Homo sapiens: one gene and its partners. The protein of the gene in region 1 purifies or fractionates together with the protein of each later gene. This does not show direct contact. Each region holds a gene or a part of one and is shown on either strand. Other genes may lie near its edges. The genes, in order: CHST8, ARL10, TMED2 and B3GALNT2.

What was found.
Region 2: the proteins of CHST8 (region 1) and ARL10 purify together in Homo sapiens (affinity purification with mass spectrometry; 4 studies listed by BioGRID and IntAct, with this or other methods). This does not show direct contact.
Region 3: the proteins of CHST8 (region 1) and TMED2 purify together in Homo sapiens (affinity purification with mass spectrometry; 4 studies listed by BioGRID and IntAct, with this or other methods). This does not show direct contact.
Region 4: the proteins of CHST8 (region 1) and B3GALNT2 purify together in Homo sapiens (affinity purification with mass spectrometry; 4 studies listed by BioGRID and IntAct, with this or other methods). This does not show direct contact.

The regions. Positions count from the first base shown.
Region 1 is NC_000019.10:33,687,548-33,695,711, forward strand, and holds part of CHST8 (carbohydrate sulfotransferase 8), read left to right. Parts: exon of another isoform or gene 1-53; intron 54-1,628; 5' UTR 1,629-1,714; coding exon 1,715-1,844; intron 1,845-8,164. UniProt on the Homo sapiens protein: Catalyzes the transfer of sulfate to position 4 of non-reducing N-acetylgalactosamine (GalNAc) residues in both N-glycans and O-glycans.
Region 2 is NC_000005.10:176,367,699-176,375,486, reverse strand, and holds part of ARL10 (ADP-ribosylation factor-like protein 10), read right to left. Parts: intron 7,542-7,788; exon of another isoform or gene 7,456-7,541; intron 6,681-7,455; coding exon 6,505-6,680; coding exon of another isoform or gene 6,235-6,504; exon of another isoform or gene 5,531-6,234; intron 3,766-5,530; coding exon 3,592-3,765; 3' UTR 3,266-3,591; coding exon of another isoform or gene 3,239-3,265; 3' UTR 1-3,238.
Region 3 is NC_000012.12:123,593,978-123,599,672, reverse strand, and holds the end of TMED2 (transmembrane emp24 domain-containing protein 2 isoform 1 precursor), read right to left. Parts: intron 3,069-5,695; coding exon 2,944-3,068; 3' UTR 1,091-2,943; downstream 1-1,090. UniProt on the Homo sapiens protein: Involved in vesicular protein trafficking. Mainly functions in the early secretory pathway but also in post-Golgi membranes.
Region 4 is NC_000001.11:235,500,609-235,508,961, reverse strand, and holds the start of B3GALNT2 (UDP-GalNAc:beta-1,3-N-acetylgalactosaminyltransferase 2), read left to right. Parts: upstream 1-4,509; 5' UTR 4,510-4,709; coding exon 4,710-4,821; intron 4,822-8,353. UniProt on the Homo sapiens protein: Beta-1,3-N-acetylgalactosaminyltransferase that synthesizes a unique carbohydrate structure, GalNAc-beta-1-3GlcNAc, on N- and O-glycans. Has no galactose nor galactosaminyl transferase activity toward any acceptor substrate.

The DNA of each region.
Region 1 (8,164 bases):
AGGAACCAACTGCTCGGCACAGTCCAGATAGCCCAGCGTCAGGTGCCTTCCCGGTGCGGAGAGGCCTGGGGCGGGTTAATTAAAGTTAACTGAGTGAAAAAATAATTATAGAAACTGCAGAGGGGAGAAACCCAAACCTGCAATTTACCCTCCCTAGCCCTTGAGCTTTTCAGAACCATCTGGTCGTGGGGAGTCGTGGGCAGGGGAGCAGGGAGAGTGCCTCTTCCCATCTCTCATGCTCCATGGACTGGGTGTGGGGGCTTCTTTCCCCAGTGCCTGGGTCCGTGTTGGGGAGGAGTCACCCGGCTGAAGTATTGTCCCTGGGCAGGGAGATGTCCTTGGGCCGAGCAGCATATTTGACCTGGGGCTTAAACAGCCACCCAGCTGTGGCCTCAGAGGCTACTGGGAGCTGCCTACCTGGCCTCACCTCCCTCAGGCACTGACCTGTGCCAGGGTGGGGATGTTCCCTCCAGCGCTCTTGGGTGGAAAAAGGGTGATCCTCTCGGCCTAGCCAGCAAGGCCCGCTGGAAAGTAAGGGGACAGAGTGACTGACCTTCAAAGCGGGGTTGGGGGGTCCCTAGAGTGCCTGCCGCCTGTGGCTCTCTCCCCCTGTACTCTGCCCATGCCCTCTCTACACACCACTGCAGGAACTTATATTCTTCCTTTGGGCAAATGGCCTTGGGGTGCCCCCATCTCCATGCACAGCCTGGCCCTGTTGGCGTGACTGGCTGGTATGTGGGGGATGGGGAATTTCTCTCCCTGCCCTCTAGGAGGAAGCGGGGTAAGGGGTGAGTCACATGGGTATACTCTGGGTCTGCAGTGGCTGGAGCAGTTAGTGCCCACCCCCAGGAACACGAGGGGGTGTTAGTACCCAGCCTCTGCGCCTCTGAGCTTGGAGTCTGTTGGACACAGGTCTAGCTGCCCCACCTCCACTCCAGGCAAAGGGCCTCGAGCACAGGGACTCCAGTGGTCTGGCCAGAGCCTCAGCTCCCTCTGGTGTGACTGTCCAGAGGGACTGACATACGCCAACCCATCTGTCAGTCCATCAGTGAGGACAGCCCTGGCTGTCACAGGAGAGTCCGTCTGTGCTTGAATATCCTTTGAGCCTAGCAGGCTCCTTTTCAGAGCTGCCTGCTCTATGGAGACCTTGTCCCCAGTGCCCTACAGAGAGAAGCAGGGTGGAGGCACATCCAAGAGCTTCTCTGCCCACCGGGCCGGGTACCAGGGACAAGGACCCAGGTTCCCGCCAGTACCTAGGCCCCCGCCCTGGGAGCACGCATGCTTATTTGGAGGCCTGGACAGTGCAGGGGGTGGCTGCTGGTTACTGACTGGGGGCCTGGAGGTTCCCAACTGGGCTCCCCAAGGCAGGGCCAGAGGGTGTCTCATTCCATGATTTGTCCAGAGGTGCAGATACAGGAGACCCTGGTGGAAAGCTAGCATTCCAGCCACAGGTGGGAACAGGCTTCCCTCAGCCTCCTGGGTGTGAAAGGATGGAAAGGGCACCCCTGGGTAACTTGTAGAGGGCAGAGTCATCCGGGGATTGCACTTGGATTGCTGCAGTGAGCAGGGCCTACACCTGCCCGGGTGCCTCGCGCCTCGGTGATGACTATCCCTCCTCTGCCCCGTAGATCTCGGCCTGATGGACGCCTGGTGTGGACGATGAGGGAAGAACGTGCCCCCCACACCCAAGAGGTGACCCCTGAGCCAGCCCCGGATGACCCTGCGACCTGGAACAATGCGGCTGGCCTGCATGTTCTCTTCCATCCTGCTGTTCGGAGCTGCAGGCCTCCTCCTCTTCATCAGCCTGCAGGACCCTACGGAGCTCGCCCCCCAGCAGGTGCCAGGTGAGTCCTTGCGCTGAGTCCTGCCATCACTGCCCCCAGCTTTCCAGCCTGAAGCTCAGGCCTCCACAGCTGCCCTGGTGTGCTGGGCTTGGGGGAAAGGGGCAAGTCTGTGCCAAGACCCCCGGCAGGCAGAGTCCTGGCTTCCCGGGGAAGGCGTTAGTCTCAATGTGGGAGTGCTGTGTCTGATGCAAGACCTCCAGCCAGTGCCTAGCAGCAGGGTGGCCCCTTTTGGGAGTCATGGCAAGGCTGCTGTCTATTGAGCCAGTTGTTGCCCTTGATGAAACTCAGATTTAAACAGGATTCCACCACCTCTCAGGCCTCTTCCACATTGTCAGGGACATCAGAAAGTAGACAACTTCTCCCTGAGCCCATGCCCCACAAGCAAGACTCAGTTTCCCTGCCCAGCCCTGGGGAATCTAGCCTCTCTGGTCTGGACAAAGGGGGTCAGGGTACCTCCTGGTTTAGTGAGGCCAAGACCCCCTCCGAGGGTCCCCCACTGCTACTTCCATTCCACCCCTGCCTGGTAGCCCACTGGAGTCACAGAGGGCTGCTGGGAACAGGTGGGATGGCAGGGAGGCCAGAGCAGGAAGGGTGATTCTGGCATCTCAGGGCAGACGGAGTGTGGAGAGGGAGTTCAGGCAAGGTTTCTGCTGCCGGGACACGGTCCCCATCCCCAGAGATATGGAAGGACAGGAGGTCAGCTGGCAGGGTGCCAAGGCCTGGGAACTCTCTGCTTTGGAGGGAGAGGAGGGGAGGTGTCTCAGCAGTGGCCCCTGTTAGGGGCAGTTCCATGAAGCCACACACTCACAGTCCACATGCTCTAGGGCATGGACAAGCTGGTGCACCCCCAGAGACACCGCTCCTCTGCAGGGACACCCACTCACTCTCTCTTGCTTGCTCAGTGCTGTGATCCAGAGACAGGATGAAAGAGAAGGGGGCCAGAGGTGTAGGCAGAGGGGTTGCTGCGTAAATCCCTGCCGGAAGCCCAGAGCACAGGAAGGGGTCTTACTCTGCAACCGCTCCGCCCCCATTATGGACGAGCACCCATGATGTGTGGCCTTTAGTGCAGATTGAGGGCCTGTGGGCACCAGGAAGGAAGGTGAAAAGAGCACAAGGAGGCCAGAGCTGGGGCCCTGGGTCTGGCAGCTGCCAGAGGCTCCCCATGGGCAGGCGAATGAGTTGAGAGTCAGAGGGAGGCAGCCAAGGCGGTGGCCTCCAGGAGATGGTGGGCGAGTCATCGGTGCTGACTCACGCCTGTGCCGGGCCCCCACAGGTGGTGGCTGTCAGAAGTGGGTCTGGCCGCTCCCAGGCGTCTGGAGCAGCAGGTGCGCAGCAGAGCCGGCTCTCCTGTGGGAGCTTTGCAGCCTCACATGAGCCCCAGAACAGCTCATGACACTGCATTGGCAGAACAGGGCCCCTCGGGACAGCGCCACCAGGGCAGACAGCGAGCTGGTACCTAAGGTCATGTGTTATCTGCATAGAAGCACAGTCAGGAAGAAGGGCGAGCAAACGCTGACTGGGTGTGTCCTTGGTGTGTGCGTGGTTGGGGGTGCATGTAGGCAGAGGGTCCAGGCGGCCAGTACCCACATTCTGCAGGAGGAGCCTGGGAGAGGAGGCATGAGTGTGCCTGTGATGCCCACCTGGGACCAGGGCCTGGACCCATCGGTGGGACACTCCTGGATGGGACTGTGGTTTGGTGGCTTCAGCTAGTGCCCTGCCCTGCCGCAGCAAGAGTGCTCACTGCGCAGGTCCCTGTTGCCCTGCCCAGCTTCCCGAGTGCACATACGTGTGGATTACAGGTGGGCTGGGGACCCAGGGGACGGCTGGGATTTCTGGGAAGATCGGATCCTCAGGCTGGCAGGGGATGTCAGATGGCACGGAGCCGAGGCCATCATCCCTTTGCAGCTGGCAGACCTGGCAAGGAGCACACGTGGGTCTTCTGATGGTCCATGCAGCCAGACCACCCTCACCACGTGCCAGGTGATGGGCAGACTTGACGGTCTGGGTAAATCACACCAAACACAGTCATAAAACTTTAAGTAATGCTTACGTTACTTTCCCTGAGCAAAGTGCCTCTGACACAGGCTGTTTGTGTTGATTTGTTACTATTCATTTATTCCTTCCCTGTACTTCTCACGGCAGCCTAATTGTGATTCGGTACCAAGAAAGCAATATCAAAGTAATTTTCCACAACATTAGTTACATTTTCTTCTGATCTTTCAAGTGAAACAATCCCATCCTGTTGGCTTCTCTGAGCATATAAACCTTGATTACATTTATCTGTTGGAAACCAGTGCTTACAAAGTGTATGTGTCCAGTTGCATGGCTGGGTGGCCCCAAGGGCCCTTGACAATTCTCCCTGTGAATTTCTGTTGGTGGGAGGAACACATTCTGGGAGTTGCCCTGCCATCCTGATCAGGCAAACAGGCAGGTGTTGGGGTGGAGGGCTGGGAGTGGAGATGAGCGGATCTACGGAGGAAATTCCATACCATGGCATGAACTGTCCTGGGGACGGAGTTCTCTGGGAGCTGCAGTTTGTGGCACAACAAATGTAGAAAGGGGATGGGGAGTGGCGGGAATTCTGAGTTGCTTGAGGTCCCTTGGGGCCTGGCCTCATTCACGTCCCTCCCACGCAGCCACCGGATATTAACAGCACCTGAACTTTACATGGATCAGCCAGCCAAGCTCACCTGGCTCAGGCAGTAGATGGAATTGTAGGGGGTTGCCAGACTTTTGTAAATCAAACCACATTTTAAACATTTTTTTTTTACTACAGTCCAAATCAAATCTTTGGAAACAGGAAGAGCTACCCAGTAAGCTATCCGATGCGAAGATGAAGTTTTGTGTAACAGAGAATTCACTTCTCCAGTTATAATTCTTTTCCAGTCTCCAGGATTGCCAGGCCCTGAGGCCAGAGCTTCTGCTTTCAGGAAATTCACTTTTTGACCCAGTAGACAAGACTTACCTCTTCTCCAAGAGAAAGACTTGGAGACCAGGCCAGAACCAGGAATAACAAACACCAATGGCCAGGTGTGGTGGCACGTGCCTGTAATCTCAGTACTTTGGGAGGCCTGGGTGGGAGAATCACTTGAGCCTAGGAGTTCTAGACCAGCCTGGGCAACATAGCAAGACCCTGTCTCTACAAAAAAAAATAAATAAAATTAGCTGAGTGTAGCGGTACACACCTGTAGTCTCAGCAACTTAGGAAGCTGAGGTGGGAGGATCCTTTCAGCCCAGGAGGTCGAGACTGCAGTGAGCTGATTGTGCCACTGCGCTCCAGCCTGGGTGACAGGGCCGGACTTTGTCTCAAACAACAAAAAATTCCCAATGTACTGGCTCTGGGGGCTGCAGAAGGCTGACTCCACATTTGGTCGAGCAAACTGAATTTTACGAGCTGCTTTCTTTGTGAATGTTTTATCATAGCGAATTTGGAACACATGCAGTAGTGGAGTAGGATAGTGCCATGAACACCACATACCGGGCACCCAGCACCCCCCACCAACACCAGGCTGGCCCCATCCATAGCACCATCCACTTCCCTCCTTTCATGTGATTTTTGAAGTCTATACCAGACATCCTATCAATTCAGCTATAACTATTTCTTTTTTCTTTCTTTCTTTTTTTTTTTTTTTGAGATGGAGTTTCGTTCTTGTTGCCCAGGCTGGAGTGCAATGGTGCGATCTCAGCCCACCGCAAACTCCACCTCCTGAGTTCAAGCAATTCTCCGGCCTCAGCCTCTCGAGTAGCTGGGATTACAGGCATGCACCACCACCCCTGGCTAATTTTGTATTTTTAGTAGAGACAGGGTTTCTCCATGTCGGTCAGGCTGATCTCGAATCCCCAACCTCAGGTGATCTGCCCACCTCGGCCTCCCAAAGTGCTGGGATTACAGGTGAGAGCCACCGTGCCCAGCCTCAGCCATAAATATTTCAATATATTTCTCAGTTTAAAAGATAAGAACTGTTTTATTGACATCACCACTGAACTCATTCCTTAATAACATCAAATTTAATGATTCCTCAATAGCATCAAATAGTCAGTCAGTGTGCAAATGTCTGTCTCACAAATATAATTACCTTTATTTCCAATTTGTTCCATCCAATATCCAGAAAAGGCCCTCACATGGCAGTTGGTGGATGAGTCTTTTAAGTCTCCTTTAATCTGTAAGTTTCCTTCTCCATCTGTATTCTTCTCTCACTATTTATTTGAGGAAACCAGGTCACGGTTCCTATAGAACTTTCTGTAAATTGAGATTTGGCTGATTGGGCCTGTCTGATAAGGATTCACGTTGTTCTCTGTTCTTTGTTGTCCCAATAAATTAGGTGAATCTTGAAGCTTGATCAGATACAGGTTTGGATTGGTTTTTGTTTTCTTCTAGGGGAGTTTTGGGGGACAGGAATTCATGGGTGGTTCTGTATTATTCCATCAGGAGGCTCCTGTCTGCCTGGCTGTCTTATGTTATCAGCCGCCAGAGATCGTGCCTAGATCCAGCCATTCATTAGGGGTTACACAGTGGCAATGTTCTGATTTTATCACTCCTTCTTCATTCTTTTAAGTGGAATGGATTTTGTTTTAATGGGGCAAGGTGAGTCATTGTCAGTGACCCATGAAGCCAAAGTGAGTGGTGTGGATTGATTGGTTTATTCATAGATATGTATATAAAACTACAATGTTACCATACAGATTCTGTTGTAGTTTATTCATATATATATATATATATATATATATATATATATATAAATGCAATGTTACCATACAGATTCTATTGTAGTTTATTCATATATATATATATATATATATATATATATATATATATATATATATATATAATGTTACCATACAGATTCTCTTGCTGGCACACTGTAAATAGTTCGTTCTTTTAATGTTTGGCTTTTGCAGAGTGAGTTTTCTTTAAGTGGGGCTACCCCATGTTTCAGAGCCCTTTGCCTTTTCCTGGAGTCAAGGAGTTGTGGGTGGTGGTTCTAGGGTGCCCAGTGGGGAGGCAGCTGTGGTGGACAGCAAAGATCCCCCTCAGGGACCCCTGGCACAGACAATGGGATTGGACAGCCCCCGATGACTCCTAGGTCTGTGGCCTGTCTTGGGGCACTCCTGCAGGGCATGGGGAAATTTAACGATGAAGATAATAATGAATATTGACTGAACATTTACCATGGGCCAGGCCTCGTATTGAGAACTTTACTTTTTTGAGACAGAGTCTCGCTCTGTAGCCCAGGCTGGAGTGCAGTGGCATGATCTTGGCTCACTGCAACTTCCGCCTCCCAGGTTCAAGCGATTCTCATGTCTCAACCTCCCAAGTAGCTGGGATTACAGCTGTCCACCACCACACCTAGCTAATTTTTATCTTTTTAGTAGAGACGGGGTTTTACCATGTTGGCCGGGCTGGTCTCGAACTCCTGAGCTTCAGGCGATCTACCTGCCTTGGCCTCCCAAAGTGTTGGGATTACAGGCGTAAGCCACCACGCCTAGCTTTACATGTTCTAATGCATATAATTTCCCTTCCCTTCCCTCCCTTCCCCTCCCCTCCCCTCCCTTCCCCTTCTGTTCCCTTCCCTTCCCTTCTTGAGGCAGGGTCTTGCTCTGTGGCCCGGGCTGGTGTATAGTCTTGCCATGAAAGCTCACTGCAGCTTTGACCTCCTGGGCTCGAGTGATCCTCCTACCTGAGCCGCTGAGACCACAGGCAGACGCCACTACACCCAGCTATTTATTTTATTTTTTATACAGACAGGATCTTACCATGTTGCCCAGACTGGTCTTAAACTCCTGGGCTCAAGTGATCTCCCGCCTCAGCCTCCCAAAGTGCTGAGATTACAGGTGTGAGCCACCACAACTGGCTAGGTATGATTCTTACAAATAAACGATGTCTAGTTTGAGACAATGTGCCAGCACTCACTGGGGCAGACACAGAAGTAGCAACAATACTGATACTAGCTAATGCTCTCAGGCCCTCGAGATGAGCCAGGCACAATCACAAGCACTTTTCATATATTTAATACTCATTTACTACTTTTAAAATTTCAATAGTTTTGGGGGTATAGGTGGTTTTTGGTTACGTGGGTAAGTTCTTTAGTGGTAAATTAGGAGATTTTAGGGCACCCATTCGTCACCCAAGCAGTGTACACCATACCCAATATGTAATCTTTTGTCCCTCACCCCCCATCCCAGCCTTGTCCCCTGAGTCCCATAGTCTATTGTATCACTTTATGCCTTTAGGTCCCCACAGCTTAGCTCCCACTTATAAGTGAGAACATGCGGTATTTGGTTTTCCATTCCTGAGTTACTTCACTTAGAATAATGCCCTC
Region 2 (7,788 bases), on another chromosome or scaffold:
GTGGAGTTCCTGCGGACTCACTTTTGGCGGCAGTGAGGTGCCAACTGTATGGAAATTAAAGTTAATGCTAAATTGAAAAGAATTTTGTAGCACAGAGATTCGCACAGGTAGAAGCCACAGATGGATGGATGGATGGATGGATGGGTGGATGATGGATGGATGGATGGATGGATGGATGGATGGATGGATGGATGGATGGGTGGATGGATGGATGGGTGGATGGGTGGATGGATGGAAGGATGGATGGATGGATGGATGGATGGGTGGATGGGTGGATGAGTGGATGGATGGATGGATGGGTGGATGGGTGGGTGGGTGGGTGGATGGATGGGTGGGTGGGTGGATGGGTGGACGGGTGGACGGGTGGACGGATGGAGGGATGGATGGATGGATGGATGGATGGATGGATGAGGCCACCTGTGTTCAACAAAAACACGTAATGGAACTTCATGCAGCTTTAGATTTCCTTTGCCCAGCTAGGAGCTTGTGTATGGTGCTGAACAAAACTGAACGCTGTGCTTATCTTTCCTGATTCTACTACTATGGAGAGCTTCAAAAGGCGGTGGTGGCTGCCGCTTCTGTAGATACTGCCACCAAACACATCAAGGATATTTCTCAGGGAAAAGGAACACATAATGTGTTTGCAGGAGCAGCTAGTGGTTGGTTTGCAGGCATCCTGAATGGTAGACAGCAAGCTTAGCTGTTCAAGGTTTTCTAATCTTCATGTTTCTTTTAGTGGGTATCCCAATCACCATGACTTGTGTTACCAAAAGCTAACTAAAAAATCAAACACTTTACAATTAAGGTACTTCATAGTGAACTATGTCCTTAATTGCCATTATACCCTGAACAGGCTATGAGCAGCAGAGCTTGCACGCTGTTGAACTATTTTTATCGTCTGAACTTGAGTTGTTTGATTCCAATCAGTTTGGTTTGTGGAGACTCATATTAAGGGATGCATTCCAGTTTCTTGGTATTACACTCCTGATAGCCATCCTAAGGTCCCCACTGATGTGTTGTAGTCTTAAGTACACCAATGCAGTCATCCTTTGTACCTCAAATGGTCTCATTACGGTTAGAGTAACAGAAACATGAAGACATACAGAATCCGCTAACTGATTTAACATTGTAAACTGTGAGTTCCATAATGAGGTCAAATAGTGACAGAAGGTAGTGTCAGTGCGTGGGATTTTGGTCAATCTCTCAAAATTAAGGGGCTGAGCAAAATGAGGGACACTGTGAAGCTGAATTAAGTCTGGCCTAAAGCTGCCTCTGTACACAGTGAATTGTAACTTAACGTGTAAACAACTCGTAACCTAACCTAAAAGTATGTTCTTCTAACAAGTAGCCGAATTTTAGCCAATCACAGCAGCCAAACCTTCAGTCAATCGTCGGCTGAAGGCTGCTAAAACATGTTCAGGTAAGGCAAATGCCAGACTGCAGCCAATCAGGCAACCTAAGTTATTTTCGTTTCTCTGGCTATAAATGTAGCCTACACACATTGTGGGGCTGAGCATTCTGAACTGCTTTTGGTGCTAAGTACTAACCAGTTCACGAATCTTTTTTCTGCTCAAAAACAGAACATACTTTTTAAACTTCGTTAAAGTTGTCTAAGGTTTTTTTGCCTTCAAGCCCTGAAGAACAAGGAGTTCATAGAACAAAGGAGAAAAGTCTCTTAGCCTTCCAATGACAAAATGAAAAGCTGCCAGCAAAGTTTCAAAGGCTACTCTGAAACCCAAGTCATTCTTAAAATTTTACATAAAAGCCCATAAATCACTTCTTACTGCAGAAAGTGAACCAGCACTTTCAAGAACAGTGATTCTTCAAATGGCGCCCAAGGGCACAGCAGCCACTATTCCAAAGATCACACTCGCTTCTGGACTTCAGAATTTCCCACCCTCCTTGCGGCTTGTTGAACTGTTTTTATCATAGTTCCTCTTCTTACACTGGTCACGGTGTGGAACTGAGGCATGCTGGGTAAATGTCAAATGAAATGAAGGCACACAATCTCTATTCTCAACTAGACAGCAAATTGAGGTGCACAGCTCCTCTTAAAAAAAAAATCCATTTGTGGTTGTTGATTTAGTGGTCCCTAACAGACAACAGGCTCCTCTTTGCCTGTACCGATAATAAGTGTCAGTACAGAGCCAGTCCTTCAATTGGGCTGATCGCCAAGCACTGGAGAACTATGGAATGTGCACTGATGAGAACTCCAGAAATTCAGTCCAACTTGGCTTTCACTGGGGAAAAATTGGGTCCAGAAAGGCTGAGTGATGTACCCAAGGCCATCCCGTTGGCTGGTCTGCTATTCCTGTCCTTAGGATCACATAATACAATTTTTTTCCATCTTTTTACCTAGATTCACATAAGGGAAATCCTCTCCCAGAGTCATTTCTTATCTACCCAGAAGGAATTTGCACCCTTTCAACATCCTGGGCCAAGTGGTGGCGTTTCAGTTCATGTGAATCCATGTAAAGTACTATGATATCGACGACAGCCTCAAAGCCAGGTGGGAGGAGGAACCCACAACTTTGTCTCCACTGACATCTGTATGTTATCTCATTGTCATTCATGATTCCAGCTATTTTCCTAAGTTCCAAATTTTCTATGACTGTCATCTGGGGTTTTGAAAACAGCACCTAGAAACAGAGCCTAGAACTCTGGCCTGTTCTGCTTATAAATTAATAAATAAAATGCAGTTCTGAGGTCAACACCTAGCTCCAGTTGACTGTCGTCCCAGGGACACAGGCTCCTTCCTTCCCCTGACTTCTGTAAACATGGGCACTGGCACAGTTAGTACGAGAGCAGCAGCTTGTCTCCAGATTAGAGGGGAAAAACCCAGCCTTCACTTTTTCTGTTTGGTGGGTGAATATCAGTTATTCTGTAGTCAAGAGAGGCTGGCAGGCCAGGCCTGGGCTCAGGGAAAGGCAGGGAGGTCTTCAGAAAGCTCCTTGCTAGGATGGCCAGGTTCATCCTAGCACTTCACACTCCCATGGCTGGGAAAGGCATCTCCGAATTAGGAAACCACCTCCCTTTAAAAATAATGGCCCTGGGGTCAGAGAGGCAGAGATTGCACAAGGCCACAAGTCACTTAGGTGGAGCTGGGGCTGGACAATGCAGGACAGGAACAAAGGCTTGCTGTGTCACCACTCAGAAGCTGCCCACATGAGAAGGGCATGACGTCACCAGACTGTTTCTGGACTGGGAGACCTTGAGGCTCTAGGAGTATTTCTGACACCTACACTGGTTCCTCAGGTACCGGGACCTGTAGTGGAGGATTGAGCCCACTGAGCATCTCACTGTACAGGTAAGAGAAGGGAAAGCTGGATCCACATTCCAGCCTGGAATGAGCCAGACACTATCCTCCCCACCCTCTGTCTCACCCACCTCCCTGCTTCGGCTTCACGGCCACCTCACCAGGAAGGCTTCTGCATGGTTCTTGGCCTTGCCCAGGCCCTGCTCTTGAAAGGCAAAGGAGGGGAAAAGGGAAATGCTGCCATGTGGCTCTTGCCCCAGGCCCAGTCTGGCAATGAAGCAGCAGCAGTACAACTATGGTCTTGACAGGCAGGTGGCAAGCAGGAGAGCTCCAGCCTAGGAGAGGAGCTCCAAGAGCAGTTTCCAGATGTGCACGGTGCCAGGCTCTTCAAAGGTGGGTCCTGCAGGGGCAATGCTGGCTGCCAAGAGGAAAACCTCCCGCTGGTTATCGATAGCCTGTAGACCCAGCTCCCGCTGCAGCTCCCCCATACTCATGGCCTCGCTCAGGTCCTGGGTGAGACACAGAAGTCCGAACACAGCTGGCAGCATTTCCTAACACACTGACACCCTTGTCGTTCATGAAACACACTGTTCTTAGGCTATCCCCGGGAATATCAGGAAACACACTGTTCTTAGGCTATCCCCGGGAATATCAGGAAACACACTGTTCTTAGGCTATCCCCGGGAATATCAGGAAACACACTGTTCTTAGGCTATCCCCGGGAATATCAGGCCCCAAGTTCCCAGAAGTAGCCTCTGGACCCCTTGGCCTAAACTCAATGCTCTCTCCCTCACCCTGGGCTCTCCTTTGTACCAACCTCTTTTCATTGCATCATTAGCCACTGTTTTGAGACGGAGTTTTGCTCTGTCACCCAGGCTGGAGTGCAGTGGCACGATCTTGGCTCACTGCAACCTCCACCTCCTGTGGTGGAATCCTGAAGCGATTCTCCTGCTTCAGCCTCCCTAGTAGCTGGGACTACAGGTGTGAGCCACCACGCCTGGCTAATTTTTGTATTTTTAGTAGAGACGGGGTTTCGCCGTGCTGGCCAGGCTGGTCTCGAACTCCTGACCTCAGGTGATCCACCTGCCTCAGCCTCCCAAAGTGCTGGGATTACAGGCATGAGCCACCACGCCCGGCTAGAAATAGAGCACTTCCTATGTGTCAAGCATTGTAGATAGGCCCGTATATACTTCAGCTTATTTAATGTTCACAGTCCACACTTAATTGATGAGAAAAGTAGCTCAGGGAGGTGACATCATTGAGCTAAGGTAACAGTGATAGGTGGTAGAGCCAGGTGCCAACTCAGGTTGGTTTGATAACCAAGTTTCCTAAACTCAGTCATGGAGAGATGATACAGTAGGATCACTTCCAGACAAGACCTCTAGAAACTAGCTGGAGGAAAACAAGGGACCACTACACAGCATGACTGGTGATGGTATGTTGTAATTTCAACCCTGGCCCAAGATTTAAATGATTCTTCCTGGAGCAATTCAGAGACTGCTGGGACCTTAGATGTTGTCTCCTACAGGTTCAAAACTGCTATAAATTAGTTTATAAATAGGACATGATGTGATTCCTGGTCCAAACTGGGGCAATCTGAGGCTCAGAGCGGGCACTATTAATAGTGCCAGAACAAGAGTCGTAAATGGGGACTGTCTTGGACAGAAAAGGACATACAGTCACCCTATTTATAAATAATTGTCAAATGTTTCCTAATAGGTTGGGGAATCTGAGGTCGAAGACATACAGTCTCTCTCCATGTCAAGTTGGAAACAGGTCCCACAGCTCTCAGAGGCACCTGAGTTTAGGCCACAGGAAATATGATCAGACTCTGTACTCTGGCAGTTTCACCTGATATTGAGAATGGGACCCAAGGTCTGTGATACTGAGGGTTCCTGGGCCCAAGGCGACTCTCTGGCACCCAAGAGAGGTACAGCACACTGGTTAAGAGGAGGAACTTTGAAGAATATCTGAGTTCAAGTTTGGGCTTTGCCACATGCCAGCTGCAACTCCAGGTATTTAGTGTAACAGCAGGGCCTATCACGAGGTATTTAGAGGGAAGTGAGGTCATGATTGTCAGGTGCTTACCACATGTATGGCACACCGTAAGCACACAATAAATGTTAGCTGTTATTTAACCTGTTCTACCTCTCATCAGTTACCAGCTTCAGCTCTCTGATCTAGAGCCAGAATTTGCAAGGGCATAGCAGAGTGGAAAAGGTACAGCTTTAGCATTACACGTCCCAATTCCACTATTTTTTTTTTTTTTTTTGAGATAGGGTCTCGCTGTGTCACCCAGGCTGGAGTGCAGTAGTGTGATCACAGCTCACTGCAGCCTCGACCTCCTGGGTTCAAGTGATCTTTCTGCCTCAGCCTCTAAAGTAGCTGGCACTATAGGCAGGCACCACCACACCCAGTTAATTTTTTGCATTTTTTTTGTAGAGACGGAGTTTCACCATGTTGCCCAGGCTGGTCTCGAACTCCTGGAATCAAATGATCCACCTTCCTTGGCCTCTCAAAGTGTTGGAGGTAGAGGTTTGAGCCACCACGCCTGGACCAATTCTATTACTCTCAAGATGTACAACCTTGGAAAGATTATAAGACTAGCCTGTCCCATCTATAAAATGGGAATAGCATCCCATACTTTATAGGGTCAACAGAAGCATAAGAAGAAATGTTATTCAAAACCACACCTGGGGGCCAGACACAGTGACTCATGCCTATAATTCCAGCACTTTGGGAAGCTGAGGCGGGCGGATCACTTGAGGTCAGGAGTTCAAGACCAGCCTGGCCAACATGGCAAAACTCCACCTCTACTAAAAATACAAAAATTGGCTGGGTGTGGTGGCACATACCTGTAATCCCAGCTACTCGGAAGGCTGAGGCACAAGAATTGCTTGAACCCGGGAGGTGGAGGTTGCAGTGAGCCGAGATCACACCACTGCATTCCAGCCTGGGCGACAGAACAAGACTCTGTCTCAAAAAAAAAACAAAAACAAAACACCATGCCTGGCATATAGGAGGCACTTAATAATTATTTTTCTCATCTCTCCAGAGTACGAGATGATAGGGAGGCAAAGAGGAAGGAAGACAGAGGCAGGGATCAGGACAGGGCATAGGTAGAAGAGGTGGGGGCAGCATCTCAGCCACCCTCTCCAGGCCATGGGCCCAGGCAGCGCTCCTTGCCCCTGCCCAAGCATCTCTGAGTGGATGTCACCTGGACCGAGCTGCCCTCTCACAGCCCTCACCTGCTTGTTGGCCACCACGACGACAGGCAGGTCAGGGTCCTTGTCCAGCAGCTTGTGCAGCTCCTGTCGGGCCCAGGGCAGCCGCAGTCGGTCAGCCGAGTCCACCACAAACACCAGCACATCCACCTCGCTCACAAACTCCTTCCAGTAGAAGCGCAGGTTCTGGCTGCCCCCAACTGAGGAGAGGCCAGGGGCCAGCTCAGAGCCTCCCGGGCCCCCGCTCACTGCCCACAGCCCCCACCCCACCCCGGGCCCCCGCTCACTGCCCACAGCCCCCACCCCACCCCGGGCCCCCGCTCACTGCCCACAGCCCCCACCCCACCCTGCTTCTAGCTTAGTGAGCTTCCACCAGCCGGGGGCAAGGAAAAGACCGCAGTTTCCGCAGCTACTCAGACTGGATTTAGCTCTAGCTCTGATAGGCGGGTCTCTTGGGGCAAGTCCCTAGCTTTAAGCACCAGTCTCCTCACTGAACTTTCCTAACGGGTTGTTGCAGTAAAACCCACAGGTACCACGTGCGATGTACCTTTCACGGGACTGACACACAGGTGCTCAGTAAATGGAAGTCTTCAGTTCTCTCCCCTGGGTTGTCTGGCTTTGCCTCTTGCTAATTCCTAGCTTTCTCCTACAGGTTCAAAACTGTCAGTGATGGCTGTGACAGGAGCCAGGAGTCCTATTGTCTAGAAAACTCAGGACCCCCTGCCCTGCCTATACACAGCCATTCTCCATTCAGTTTCCCCCATCCCCTTCTTTTCCCTTGGAAATGTCATATTTCATCCTATGAACACATGGTTGCCAACACAGTCCCCCAGCCTGGATCACCTTTCTTTTCCTCTCTGCTCCTCTGCACAGTCCCATTGGTCACCCCGCACCCTAGTGTTTCTGGCTATGTTTCTGACACTTGAGGATTCTAAGCTGTGAGAGTCAGAGGCACTTACCTCTGAATCCCCACAAAGCCCTCAGCACAATGCCTGGCACATAGCAGGCACTCAACAAATATTTACTGAGTGCTTGCTAGGTGCCAAGCACTGATCTGGGTGCTGCAGATACAGAGGTGAGCAAGGCAAGCAGGGGCCCTGCACCAAGGAGCTCCCTCCCTAACTGGGAAGGACATGGCAATGACATCAACACATTTCAAAAAGGAAAGAAATAAAACAGAAAAAAGGGAAAGTGGCTGAGGTGGAACAGGGGTTGGCCCTGGATTGGGTGGTCTGGGTAGGTCTCATCAAGGAAGTGGCATGTGAGCTGAGTGGGATGATGAGAAGGAGCCAGCCATGGGAAGAGGCA
Region 3 (5,695 bases), on another chromosome or scaffold:
GAGCAAAGGGGAAGTTTTCCCTTACACTCCCTTACATTCCACTTGGACTTTTGAAATCAACTTCTGTTACCTTCCTTTCTGTATCACTGAAACTCCTACCTTGATTTATGTTCCCTTCTTAGCATTTACCATTATCTCTTTCTCGCCACACACACACAAACACACACACACACACACAAAACTTATTAGGTTCATCTCTGCCACCAAAATGTAAAACCCACACTAATAGGGTCTTTTCTCTATCTTCTTTATCCCAAGGACTATCACTGTAGCACACAGCAATCACTCAAATATTTGTGGGATTGATAAATGGGAATACAACTCATGCAGACTGCAGTCATCTCAAATTAAGTAAAAGACAACAGCCTGAAGCCACATTTTCAGTGAAATGATCATCACATTCTCAAAACACCTTTGACAACTTTTATAAAATGGGACTTCGGCTAGGCACGGTGGCTCATGTCTGCAATCCCAACACTTTGGGAGGCTGAGGCAGGAGGATCACTTGAGCCCAGGAGAATGAGGCCAGCCTGGGCAACATACAGGAGACTCTGCCTCTACAAAAATAATTTTTTAATTAGCTAGGCGTGGTGGTGCATGCCTGTGGTCCCAGCTACTCGGGAGGCTGAGATGAGAGGATCACTTGAGAGGTTAAGGCTCCAGTGAGCCATGTTTGTGCCACTGCACTCCAGTCCAGGTAACAAAGCAAGACCCTGTCTTTAAAAAACAAAAAATGTAGTCCCAGCTACTTGGAGAGCTGAGGTGGTAGGATCACTTGAGCCCGGGAGGTTGAGGCTTCAGTGAGCAGAGATCAAGCCAACCTGGGAACAGAGTGAGATCCTGTCTCCAAAAAAAGAAAAGGTGGGAGACTTCACAGACAGTTCTGAAAGCAAAGGCACAGGGAAATTACATATCTGTGTGTGTCTTCTGGGCTCTACTACCTACTAGTTTTCTGACCTTAAGACCCTTTCCAAGCCTGTTTTCCTCCTCACTTCCAAAATGGTTTTACCCAAGGTAATGGCAGTTTTGAAGCATGAATAAGACAGACCAAGTAAAGTGCTTAGTACTAGATCGAGACATTACACAGTACTCAAGAAATGGTAGCTACTTTTATTACCAGCAGGCCGTTAGTTTCACAGAGGAAGAACAGTTTCTACAGGTGGTGATCTAGTCTCCGGTTCCACCTTTCACTCTTTTCTGTGGCCTTGGGCAAATCATTTAATCTGTCTTTGAAGCTATTTCCCACATTCATAAACTACGTGGGCAAGTGAAAATAATTCAACCCTTTTTTCCCAAATAGAAAAATACTTAAGATTTTAGCACTGATCCATCAGAGAAGCCACACTGGAAAACCTACGCAGAAACTAAAACTTGGTACCATTCACTATCCTCAAGTTTATAGAATTAAAAAGTAACAGACGTAATAGGTATAAATACTCAGAAAACATGAACATGTCTCATGTCAAATAAGAACAGAAAGTTGGTGTGTAAAAAATGTGGATTAGCTGTCAATATATAAAACACAGAATACTGTTTTTAAAAAGAATTGTTTATTTACCGAACCTGGGGCATATTAGATACAACCAATTTTAAATTTACATCTTTTAAATCAGTTTTGAAGTGTTTCACACACACAAAAAACTTGGCATGCAACAGTTGTCCTAAGGTGAAAGTCACCTCATTAATAAACTGTTGCAAGTGTTCTCACCCAAGGTGGAAGTATGGTTTATCCTGAACATGAAAACCTGTAACAAATTTAAATTAATTATATAAAACTCGTTACTTGTAGTTTTGCCCTTGCAAAGATCCAAAAAAAAAAAAAAAAGCACAAGTAACTAATATGTATCAGTCACAACATAATCCTGGATCATCCCCATACCAAAACCGGATGCTCTTTTAATTTTAAACCCATCATCAGAGAACAAGAGAAAGTAATTTCATTTTACACAAAACAAGATTCACATGTGCCAAAAAAGAAAGACCCAAAAGAAACAAAAACCAAAACCCTAATGCTGACACTGATGGTCAGTACCCTGAACAGTGGCCCAAAGGCCACTGATCAAAAATAAAATAGTGGCTGTATATCAATGAAATGAAATCCAAGAAGCTTTAACCCTTTGGCATCAGAAATCCAGATTTTTCCAATTATGTAAATGCTTATTTCTTACATGCCAAGAGTGGGAGAAGTGAATGTGCCAATGTGGAAAGAAAAAAAGCCACCACTCACTGGGACACCCAGAGAATTGGCTTTAACAGACAATTAGGGGGTTAGGCAGAAACCCAGAAATGGTTATTAGCTGCTTGTGTCATCAATTTAAGTGGAGATGACTGAGTCCTAAGGTACAATGTAAAAATGTATGTGGGAAAATGTATGCTGAGTCGTAGTTTTAAAGCAAAACAAGAAAACAAAGTATGAAAGTACCCAGCCTGGCAGCATACACCCAAGTCAGAGAGCTCTGCCATTAGGACGGGCAGAAACCGTCAAGATTCATACTGCTGTTTCTCATAAGGACTCAACAAAAATGAATCTTTAGTGACTTGAACCATAGACTGAAGGAATCCAAAGAATGCAGTCATTTTAGTAAAGTACTATCAGGCTTTGTGCTGATTTCCTGAACAAACTGCATTATATTATGAAAACAAAAGGAAAAGAAGAAATAATAAAAACTATACTCCCATATTTCACTTACAGTGTTTGAGTTCCTGGAAGGACCTATATAATGGAGGCAGCATTCAAACAAGAAATTATGCCAATCAACTGTCAAATTTTCACTATAATTTTCCTAAAAAGGCGTTTTTCCCCCAATATCTATTAATCTCAAAGAAACATAAGTTGTGAATGTACAGTTCAGAAAATAAAAATGGAGAAACTAATGACATTATTATGACCAAGGTGTTTGGTAAACAGTGAATTCTGAGTTGGGATCATCAGGAAGAGGCTTTTTAAACAACTCTCCGGACTTCAAAAAATCTCTTCAGGTAGTAGATCTGTCCCAATGTCATGGCAACTAGAACAAGAGCTTCAAAGAAGGACCAAAGGACCACTCTGCTGTTTGTGTTGTCGTTGACTGTTGAGGACAAAACAAACAAACAAAATTTAACAATTCTCCCCCAAAAAGACATAGGCATCATAAATATTTTAGTCTTCACTCTGTGTGAAAGTAATATTGTGTACACCACTCATAGAATAGATGTTCCTCAACTTACGATGGGGTTACATCCCAATAAACCCAGCTTATGTTGAAAATACATAAGTCAAAAATATATTTAATACACCTAACCTAGCAAACATCATAGCTTAGCCTAGCCTACGTAAAACACGATCAGAACACTTACATTAGCCTACAGTTGAGCAAAAGCATCTAACAACACAAAGATTATTTTATAATAAAGTGTTGTGTATCTCATACACGTTAAACTGCATTTTATTATTATTTTCTATTTTATTTATCAAGTTAGTGAACACTGCACTGAAAGTAAAAAACAGAATGGTTGCATGGGTACTTGATGCTCAGTTTCTTCTGAATGCACATCACTTTTGCACCATCATAAAGCTGAAAATTTCTAAGTGAAGTCATTGTAACCTATGGGTCACCTATACTCTAAATACTTTTGTCTCCAAGCAACTCAACATACTCCAAAGCAAAGACTTTTTTGTTTGCTCTGTTGCCCAGGCTGGAATGCCATGACACAATCATAGTTCACTGCAACCTTGAACTGTACTCAAGCAATCCTGCCACCTCAGCCTCCTGAGTAGCTGGGAGTACAGGTATGCACCAGCCCATTTGACTAATTTTTTCTGTTTTTGTAGAGAAAGGGTCTTGCTATGTTGCCCAAGTTGGTCTTGAACTCCTGGCCTCAACTGATCCTCCTGCCTCAGCCTCCCAAAGTAGAAGCAAAGATTTTTAAAAGAAACCTTAAAGATTCACTGGGTACAGCCAAGTCCATTCTGCTTGTATATGGGGAGCAGAGAAGAAAATGTGACTTGCCCAAGGTCATAATTCTAGGGTTAAAACCCAATACAACCATCTTTCTCCCTCACCATTGAAACGTCCTGTATTAGTATCCAATTTGCTGAATCAGAAAACTGACTTCTAAAAAAATTAAGGAATTATTTCAAAATCACAGTTATCCAAAATGCAATTATTTACAACATCAAAATATGGCAGTCTGAGTGTCTTTTTCCCCAAATATGTTACAAATATTTGTTGAGCACCTGTGTACTTGTCAATTGTTCTCAATGGAAGAGGTTACTCAGTTATATGGATCCATACTGACAGTTACTACCAGACCATCAAATACAAGACAAACTATGCTCATCTGTCCTGCTCTCAAACTAAGGATTTGATCCTTAAAGTAAAATCCACACCTACTCTATATTTACTATACTCTATTTGTTACATTCAAGTTTCTGATCAAATTCTTTTTATTTACTTACTTTTTTTTGAGTCAGAGTCTCACTGTCACCCAGGCTGGAGGGCAGTGGCGCAATCTCAGCTCACTGCAACCTCTGCCTCCTGGGTTCAAGTGATTCTCCTGTCTCAGACTCCTGAGTAGCTGGGATTACACGTGCACACCCCCATGCCTGGCTAATTTTTGTATTTTTAGTAGAGATAGGGCTTCACCATGTTGGTCAGGCTGGTCTTGAACTCTTAACCTCAGGTGATCTGCCTGCCTCGGCCTCCCAAAGTGCTGGGATTATAGGCATGAGCCACCACGCCTGGCCAAATTCTTTTTATTTTTAAATGTATTTTATTATTATTATTATTTTATTTTTTATGTTTTGAGACAGAGTTTCACTCTTGTTGCCCAGGCTGGAGTGCAATGACGCGATCTCAGCTCACTGCAACCTCCACCTCCTGGGTTCAAGCGATTCTCCTGCCTCAGCCTCCCAAGTAGCTGAGCTTACAGACATGTACCACCATACCTGACTAATTTTGTATTTTTAGTAGAGATGCGGTTTCTCCATGTTAGTCAGGCTGGTCTCGAACTCCCGACCTCAGGTGATCCACCCACCTCGGCCTCCCAAAGTGCTGGGATTATAGGCATGAGCCATCACGCCTGGCCAATTTATTTTATTTTTTTAAAAACGGTCTCGTGTTGCCCAGGTTGGTCTCAAGCTCCTGACCTCAAACAATCCTCCTGCCTCAGGCTCAGAAGCAGCTAAGACTACAGGCACAAGCCATTGTGTCCAACTCTCCAGTCAAATTCTATAGCCTTAGCTTTTAATTACTATGTAGGCTGGGCACAGTGGCTCATGCCTGTAATCCCAGCACTTTGTGAGGTCGAGGCGGGTGGATCACGAGGTCAGGAGATCGAGACCATCCTGGCTAACACAGTGAAACCCCGTCTCTACTAAAAATAAAAAAAATTACCCAGGCGTGGTGGCAGGCACCTGTAGTCCCAACTACTCGAGAGGCTGAGGCAGGAGAATGGCGTGAACCTGGGAGGCGGAGCTTGCAGTGAGCCGAGTTTGCACCACTGCACTCCTGCCTGGGCAACAGAGCGAGACTCCATCTCAAAAAAAAAAAAAAATTCTATGTAGTGTTTTATTTTTCTGCAAATAGCCAACATTAAAAACAATTACACTATAATCCCAGGACTTTGGGAGGCTGAGACAGGAGGACTGCTTTTGCTCAGGAGTCAGAGGCCAACCCTGGGCAATATGGAGAAACCCAGTCTCTACAATACCAAA
Region 4 (8,353 bases), on another chromosome or scaffold:
ATATTATACAACTAGGATCATTAGAGTATTACGGTACTGATGAAAGGACAGATGAATGCAAAACTGTGGCTTGGAAACAAATACTATTATGTTAAAAATTTTTAATAAATTGAGGTGATGTCATAAACTAATAGGGAAATAATGGGCCAGGACAATAGTTAGCTATATGAAAAAAATTAATTAATTTTGAGATCCTTGCATTACACCATATTCCTAAATAAATTCCAAATGGATTAAAACATTAAATAAAACAAACAAGAATATTGACCAGATCTCACGATCAGAATCATCCTAAAATATGGAAAAAAATTAAATATTGATCATTTGAATTTATAAAAATTTAAAGTGTTTTTGTGTCCTAAAAGTTATAAAATTAGAAGGCAAGAAAACTGAGGAAAAATAAAGGGCTTATACAAATGGATAAAAGGAAGATACATGACTAATTAACAAAAGAAATAGAAACAGCTAACGAACATAAGAATATTCAATCTCATTGATGAAAAGTTTTGTCCTTTGAATTAATAAAGAACTTTTTTAAAATATGAGGGTGAGATAAGAGAAACATATTGAAGGCAGACATACACATTGAAACAATAGCAGTATGAATAAAGCGGCTTAAAAATAATATCAGAAAAGGAAATTATCTGAAATGTGGAAAAAGTTTTGTGCACAGAAGTGCCAGTATTACTTATTATAGTGGAATAATGGAAACAACCTGTATGTCCAATAATACGGGACCAGATAAGAAATTATAGTGTGGACAAATGATTAAGTTATATTTTCTGAGACTACTAATTAAATATGGGAAGGCTTATAGGTTAGGTGAAAATAGTTGGATATAAATTCTAACTTACAGTATGAATGGCAAATTTTTTTAATGAAAAAACTTTTAAAAAATGTATGAATTGTATGTAGTATGATTTCTTATATTCTTCTGTTTTCCAAGATCCTTTTCATAATCATGTATTACATTGGTAATCAGAAAAAAAAATTCTTCTTTAGAGCCTTCACAATAAAGTCCAAATTCCTTAGCAAAGTTTATGATTACAACCTGGCCTCTGCCTTCTGTTCACCTTCTCATCATTGCCGTGTTCCTAACTTGCACTAAGGTCATACCAATTGCTTACATTTCCCTAATTGCCGTGTCATCACTAGCTCAGGTTTATTTATTTTATTTTTTATTTTTTTGCCTACAGTGCTCTTGAATGTCCTTCCTACTTTCTGGCCCTGTTAACTGGCCACTTTGACTTCAAGCCCCGGCCCTGTATTTTCAAGAGATAGCCTCCTCTGGGGACCCTTGAGTAGAGTTAAATATAGTTGGCCCTCCATATCCCTGGGTACTGCATCTATGAATTCAACCAACCTCAAATTCAGGAAAAAAGCAAACTTGAATTTGCGCATGCCATTGAATCCACGTGAATGAAGTGATGCGTAGACATCATATTAGGTGTTATAAGTAATTTAGAGATGATTTCGCGTATATGAGAGGATGTGTGTATGTTATATGCAAATATTATACCATTTTATATAAGGGACTTGAGCATCCATGAATTTTGGTATCCATAGAAGGTCCAGAACCAATCCCCCATGAGTAGAGACAGCTGTACCCCCTGCTTTGTGCTGCTCTAACATCCTGTGCATTCCTTTCTCAGAGCACTTATCACATTGAATTGCCATCATGGTTACCAACCACCCTAGTTTGTCTCTCCCTAATTCTAATTCTGTTAACTTGTTCCTACTTACCCTATGAGCCCCTTGAGTGCACAGACTGTTTATATCACTACTGAGTTTTTTTATTCTTTCCATTACACATACTGTCACTTTTACCTTTTTTTTTTTTTTTTAGAAACAAGGTCCCACTCTGTCACCCAGACTGAGTCCTGTGGTGTGATCATAGCTCACTCTAACCTTGAACTCTGGGGCTTAAGTGATCATCCTGCCTCAGCCTCCCGAGTAGCTGGAACTATAGGCGTATACCACCATGCCCAGCTAATTGTTAATTTTTTGTAGAGACGAGGTCTTGCTATGTTGCCCAGGCTGGTCTTGAACTCCTGGACTCAAGTGATCCTCCCACCTCAGCCTCCTAAAGTGCTGGGATTACAGGAATTACTGTCTTGCAATCTTCACTCACTTTAGTCATGAGATTATTAGGGGACAGTAGAAAACAGGTAAGTGGAAAGGTCACTGGTCCTATGAACAAGTACTATAGACAGCTCCCACTCTGATGTGATTTGAAGGATGTTACAAAGTTATTCAAAACTATTTTTGTTACAAGCTTGTCAGAGAGCCAGTGAAAAACTTCCCCTCTAGGTTGTTAAGTGAAACAACACCTTGATTATTTAATATATTCGGATGACTTATGTTTATTCTTCCCTTTAGTGCTCATTGTAACTTTGAACAGTTGTTTAAATACTGCTAGTTGATACTGCAATCTGTGTCATTTCAATCCCACACTCACAATTCCCCTACCCGGCCCTAATTGTTATATTTTCCAGAGCAGGAATAACCTTCTAACATGCTGGTTGAGTATATTTCTTTATTATGTCTATAGTCTGCGCCCTACTCCCCATCAACACAGGATAGGGATCTTTATTTTGTTCACTGGTGTATCTAAAGTACCTACAAAAGTGTCTGGTACATAATAGACACTCAATAAGTATTTGTCGAATGACTAGCTCTGCTGAAATGAGGGATTAGTCCTCTTTTTAGGATAACTCATTCTAATTCACAAAATGAAAATTTTACAATATCAACAGAGGCCATTTACTACCTTTCCTGAGGATAAAAATAGTATACTTTTTCTGGCAACCAATTATTACTTTCTTGCCTTTTCTTTTTATTTTTTTTTTGTTTGTTTGTTTGTTTTTGAGACAGAGTCTCGTTCTGTCACCCAGGCTGGAGTGCAATGGCGCGATCTCGGCTCACTGCAACCTCCGCCTCCTGGGTTCAAGCGATCCTCCTGCCTCAGCCTCCTGAGTAGCTGGGACTACAGGTGCCCACCACTACGCCAGACTAATTTTTGTATTTTTAGTAGAGACAGGGTTTCACCATGTTACCCAGGCTAGTCTCGAACTCCTGCCCTCAAGTGATCCGCCCACCTCGGCCTCCCAAAGTGCTGGGATTACACGCATGAGCCACGGCGAGCCAAAGTACTTTTTTCCCTTAAGCCTGTTTGAGTTGGGTCTTCTGTCATCCAAGACTTTTTTTCAATAATACAGTCACCTTCTGTTTCCACACTTGTGGAAACTTAAAAAAAAAAAAAAAAAAACCGCGGCCGAGCGCGGTGGCTCACGCCTGTAATCCAAGCATTTTGGGAGGCCGAGGCGGGCGGATCACCTGAGGTCAGGAGCTGGAGACCAGCCTGGCCAACATGGCGAAACCTCGTCTCTACAAAAAAAATACAAAAATTAGCTGGGCGCAGTGGCGGGCGCCTGTAATCCCAGCCACTCAGGAGGCTGAGGCAGGAGAATCGCTTGAACCCAGGAGGCGGAGGTTGCAGCGAGCCGAGATCGCGCCATTGCACTACAGCTTGGGTGACAGAGTGAGACTCCGTCTCAAAAACAAAAGCAGAAACAAAAACCGCCCCATAGCCCAGCCGCTCGTTCTCATCCTTCTCTCCCATCCTCACCCCAGTGCCTTCACCGCCCCGTCCCCGCTTTCCGGCTGCCTCGGCGCGGGCCTGGTGGGCCAGGAGGGCTCCCACCCGGGGCAAAGCCTCAAGACGCGGGGCCGGCGTTCTCCCTGGAAGGCTCGCTGCGGCCACCCTTCCCCAGGTCCCCGGAGCCCACGTTCTCCCAGCTCGCCCGGCTCCCGTTTCGCTCCCAGCTCCAGTATGAACCCGGAGCACGTGCAGTTCTACCCTGATTGGCTCGTCATCATCGTGTTCCACAGCCTAGTCCCCAGCTCGCTGTCTGTCACCCTGCGTTCCCAGAGCACAGAACCGGGCAAAGAGCCGGGAACCCACGGCACCAGAGCTAATCCCTGATGAGTCACCGCTCCAGGCGCGGACACTCGGGCTTCCTCGCCCCACTCTACGGGCCAAGGAGACGTCAGCAGGATCCCACCTCCCACAGCAGTCGAGCAAGAGAGCACGCGGAACAAAGGAGCTCTGCGTGATTTCACACAAGAGCCACTCGGATTTCCTTCAAATCTGAGGCAAAGCGCATTTCCCTTCGCGGCTCCGGGCAGCCTCCGAGCACCGGGTCTCCGGCACTACCTCCCCTGGGCCGTGGGGTGGCAGCAAACGTCAAGGGGGATGCGCATGCTCTGTGTGGGGCCTCGCCCTTCGCCCCCGCGGCCGCCGAGTGACGGAAGCGCGTGCTTAGGCTCATGGGAAATGTGGTTTCTAAACCGCGGGCGCCCCCTGCCTGGGCCCAGAGCGGGACTTCAGCTCCCGGCCGGCTGGCTGGCGCGTGTGGAAACGCGGGAGGAGAGGGCGGGGCGAGTGGGAGAAAAGGTGGGCGGAGCCGGTGGGAAGGCCAGGCGGAGGGGGCGGGGCTTCGGCCGGCTAAGCCGCGGCCACCCGCGGTCTGAGGGACCGGAGGAGCGGGGCCGGGAGCTGCGAGGAGCCCCCCAGACGTCGCCGAGCGCGAGGGCGGGCGTGCTCGGAGTGGTCGCTCGTCAGCCGCCGCCCCTCAGTCTCCGCACTTGCAGGTCCCCTCCCTCTCCGCCGGGACGCGGGAGAGCCCGGCTCGCGGCGGGGGCGGCCAATGCGAAACTGGCTGGTGCTGCTGTGCCCGTGTGTGCTCGGGGCCGCGCTGCACCTCTGGCTGCGGCTGCGCTCCCCGCCGCCCGCCTGCGCCTCCGGGGCCGGCCCTGCAGGTGAGGTCCTGGGGCCGGGCGGGTTGGCGGCCGCCGGGGGGGTGGGAGGCCCGGCTTGGTGCCGCGGGGCTTCGCCGGGAATTGTTGGAGGCGGGGGAAGGGCCAAACGCGACGGTCCCCAGACGAAACAAACGGCTCTTTTCATCCTTGGAGCGTTAACATCGGGCAAACTTGAGGGAGCTTTTCTCTTTTCGTGTCCCCGCCTCTTCTCACTTCCCCGTTTCCCTTAACGCCCGCAGAGCCGGCGCCCGCAGTTGCAAGTCCTTCGCCTGTCCCCAGGCCTGGTTAGTGATGTCCGACGCCGCCCGTTCGCCCGGGAGCGGAACCTCGTGTGCCCTTCAGCCGCCAGCGCTTTCTGCTTTGGGAGCTCTGGCTCTGAAGTTGTTTTCTTCCCCCCCAAGTTGTTGGTCTTTCTCGGTCAAGACTGGGGTTTTAGTGCCGTGGATAATGTGTGTGCGTGTTTTCAAAGGTGGCTCGGTTTTGCTTTTAAGGAATAACTTTGCTGTAAGAATATACTGTAGTTCGTATTCTTGGATTATGATGTAAGTCGGTTAAACAAATCTAGACATGAAATAGGGCATGGCCGAGAGTTGGAGTTGTTCCTGTGAGTTTGGATCGCATAACCTGCTAATGCAGTTTACATGGAAATATCAAATTCTTTAACGATCGTGTCCATTTGCTCTAAAACTTAATCTCTCGTAGGAATGAAACCTTTGTTCTTGTTTCGCGTCACAGCCTAATAGAATGCTTTACTTACGGTGCCCAGCGGATTGTTTTGTTAGTGGGTTCCACCACCCTGAACACTACTTTAGCTTTCCCTGTATCTCTTGTCTTCTTCTTTAAGGGCTTGCCCTAGAACATGAAAGAAACCTAGAAAGCTCTTTTAAATATTATGTAATACTTAATTTTGTAACTATACTGGGACTTTTTTCCCTTACCATCTCTCCCCAAAACAGCTGTTTTCTAATCCAAAAGTTCTTAAAATTAGAATTGAGTGTTTGCAGTTCAGCACTCTATGCCTTATAAGTAGAAAGTATTCGGCAATCCTCAAAACAGTCTCAGTTATATGAAATTATGTTGAGGTTATTTTGGTAACAATCTCTTTTCCTATTAGATCACTAGCTCTTTGAAAAGGATTTGTGTGACCTGAATAGAATTAAACACTATTTAAGTGATTTAATGAAAGTACAGTGTTGCTATGCACTTAACCAGTTGATGGGGTCAGGGTTTTGCTCAGTGTTTTTTAGGTTTTTGTGAAGTGAACTAAGAAGAGAACGCCATATATAAAAAATGCTTTGTAACAGCTGCTTGTGTGTTACAGGTTTCTCTCTTTTGTTATGAGTGAGCCCTGCTGGAATCTCCTTGTAGAGCGTCATTAAGTCTGTTTATGGCCTTAATGGTTGTTTAGGGTTCAGTAAAACAAACAAAAACTGAAATGTTAGTAGACTTCAAACTGAAATCTTAGTAGACTTGCTAGGCAGTTTTCTAGTTTGAGACAAGTTTTTCCTACTCCCTTACTGCACTTGAAGGATGATGCCTTTATCTGCCATCCAGTAGTTAGACCAGGCTAGATTAAGGAAATGAAGAAGTAGACCATAGAAAGGAACAGGGTAATAACGTAGGTAAGAAGATCAATACTAGTTATGTTAATTAACTTTGGCTTTGAATGAGTACTGTGTATCTGGTCAGATAATAAATGGGATTTTTTTTTAAGTTCCGGGATACGTGTGCAGGACGTGCAAGTTTGTTACATAGGTAAACGTGTGCCATGGTGGTTTGCTGCAGCTGTCAACCATCGATATTTTAATAATCTAAGTTAAACATGACTGGCCCGGCGCGGTGCCTCACGCCTGTAATCCCAACACTTTGGGAGGCCGTGGTGGGTGGATCACCTGAGGTCAGGAGTTCAAGACCAGCCTGGCCAACATGGCGAAACCCCGTCTCTACTAAAAATACAAAAATTAGCCGGGCATAGTGGTGCATGCCTGTAATCCCAGCTACTAAGGAGGCTGAGGCAGGAGAATCACTTGAACCTCGGAGGCGGAGGTTGCAGTGAGACGAGATTGCGCCACTGCACTCCAGCCTGGGTGACAAGAGCGAAAGTCCATCTCAAAATAATTAATTAATTAATTAAACAAGACTGACTCCTACCTTTCCTTTTTTCCTTTTGGTACTTTCAAAGCTAAAAGCAGTGGAAGCATCTTAAATGCTAAAATTTCCCATAATTCCTTTACCATTGTGCTGTCACCATGTTGAAACTAAAATAGTTGGGTGTTTTTACATTTTAACCCTTGTACTTTAAGCCTAACAGGAGAAAAAAAAACCCAAGATTTTGCTAAGTATTCTTTTCTTGAATTAACATTTTTAAATGTATTTTTTTTTCTCTTCTGCTGCTTTGTCTGTCTTCAGTCTCATTAAGTAATGGCAGTTTCTTTGTTTTTTTTGAAAGAGCGATTTACCTTCCCTGAATATTAAAAAAGGTTCTTTGGCTCGCAGTTGATTCAGCAAATATTTGAGAGCCTACTCTGTGCCAGCTCCTATCGTAGGTGTGGAATTACAGCAGTAATCAAGCTAAACTTCCTGCCCTCATGTAGTTTACAATTTAGAAGGGAAGACAGAGCATCAGGAAATAATTATAAATATCACAGCGGTAGTGATAAGTATAGGGAAAAAAGATAAAGCAGTGTTAAGAGATTAAAGAGATGGTTTTAAATAGGTCAGGGAAGTCCATTCCATTCTGAAGAGGTAACAGTTGAGCAGGGACCAGAATGAAGTAAGTGAGTCACCTTAGTACCAGAGTCAGCAACTTTTTTAATGTGATAGGTTCCCTTAAACCAGTCAGGGAAAGCAACTGGTAAAGAGGAAGTGAAATCCAGTACACCTGAGGGTGACAGAGGAAAATGCAGGTGGAGATAACCATCGGACTAAGGAATCTAAACATAGGATATCTTGATTACAAAATGCTCGTTTTGGGTAATGCCTTAAGTAGGAATTATTTAACGGTTAATTTAGAAAAATGATGTGACAAAAGAAGGCTTCGCTTTCTAGGGTATCTGGAAAGAAAGAAACCAAAACAAAGGAGCATATTCACTCAACAAGTACTTGAGTGTTAGATTCTGTGCTGGATGCCTAGTCCCTTCTCCCAAGGTGCTCACAGTATCTAATGGAAACAGATGTAGAGCAAGTAGAAGGTCAGAAAACAAATTGAGCTTGCTTTGTAATTTTGCCTGGGGTGAGTTCTTCCAAAATTATCCCTATATGCTAATTGTGTCTCTGTGCTTCAGTTTCCTTATTTATAAGATGATGATCTCATAGACTTATTGTGAAGATTCAATTAATGAAACACCCGCAACAGTGCCTGTTTCATAGTAAACACTCCATGAGTTTGAGAGAGGAGTGGTAGTCTGGTGGCCGCTGATGCCTGTGCTAGTGTGGTGTTTTGGGAGGTGTCTTTGGTAGTGTGTATGATGATTGTCTTTATCATTAGATCTGTGACAGGCTCACATGTTTTCTTCATTTTCAAGATTTGTAT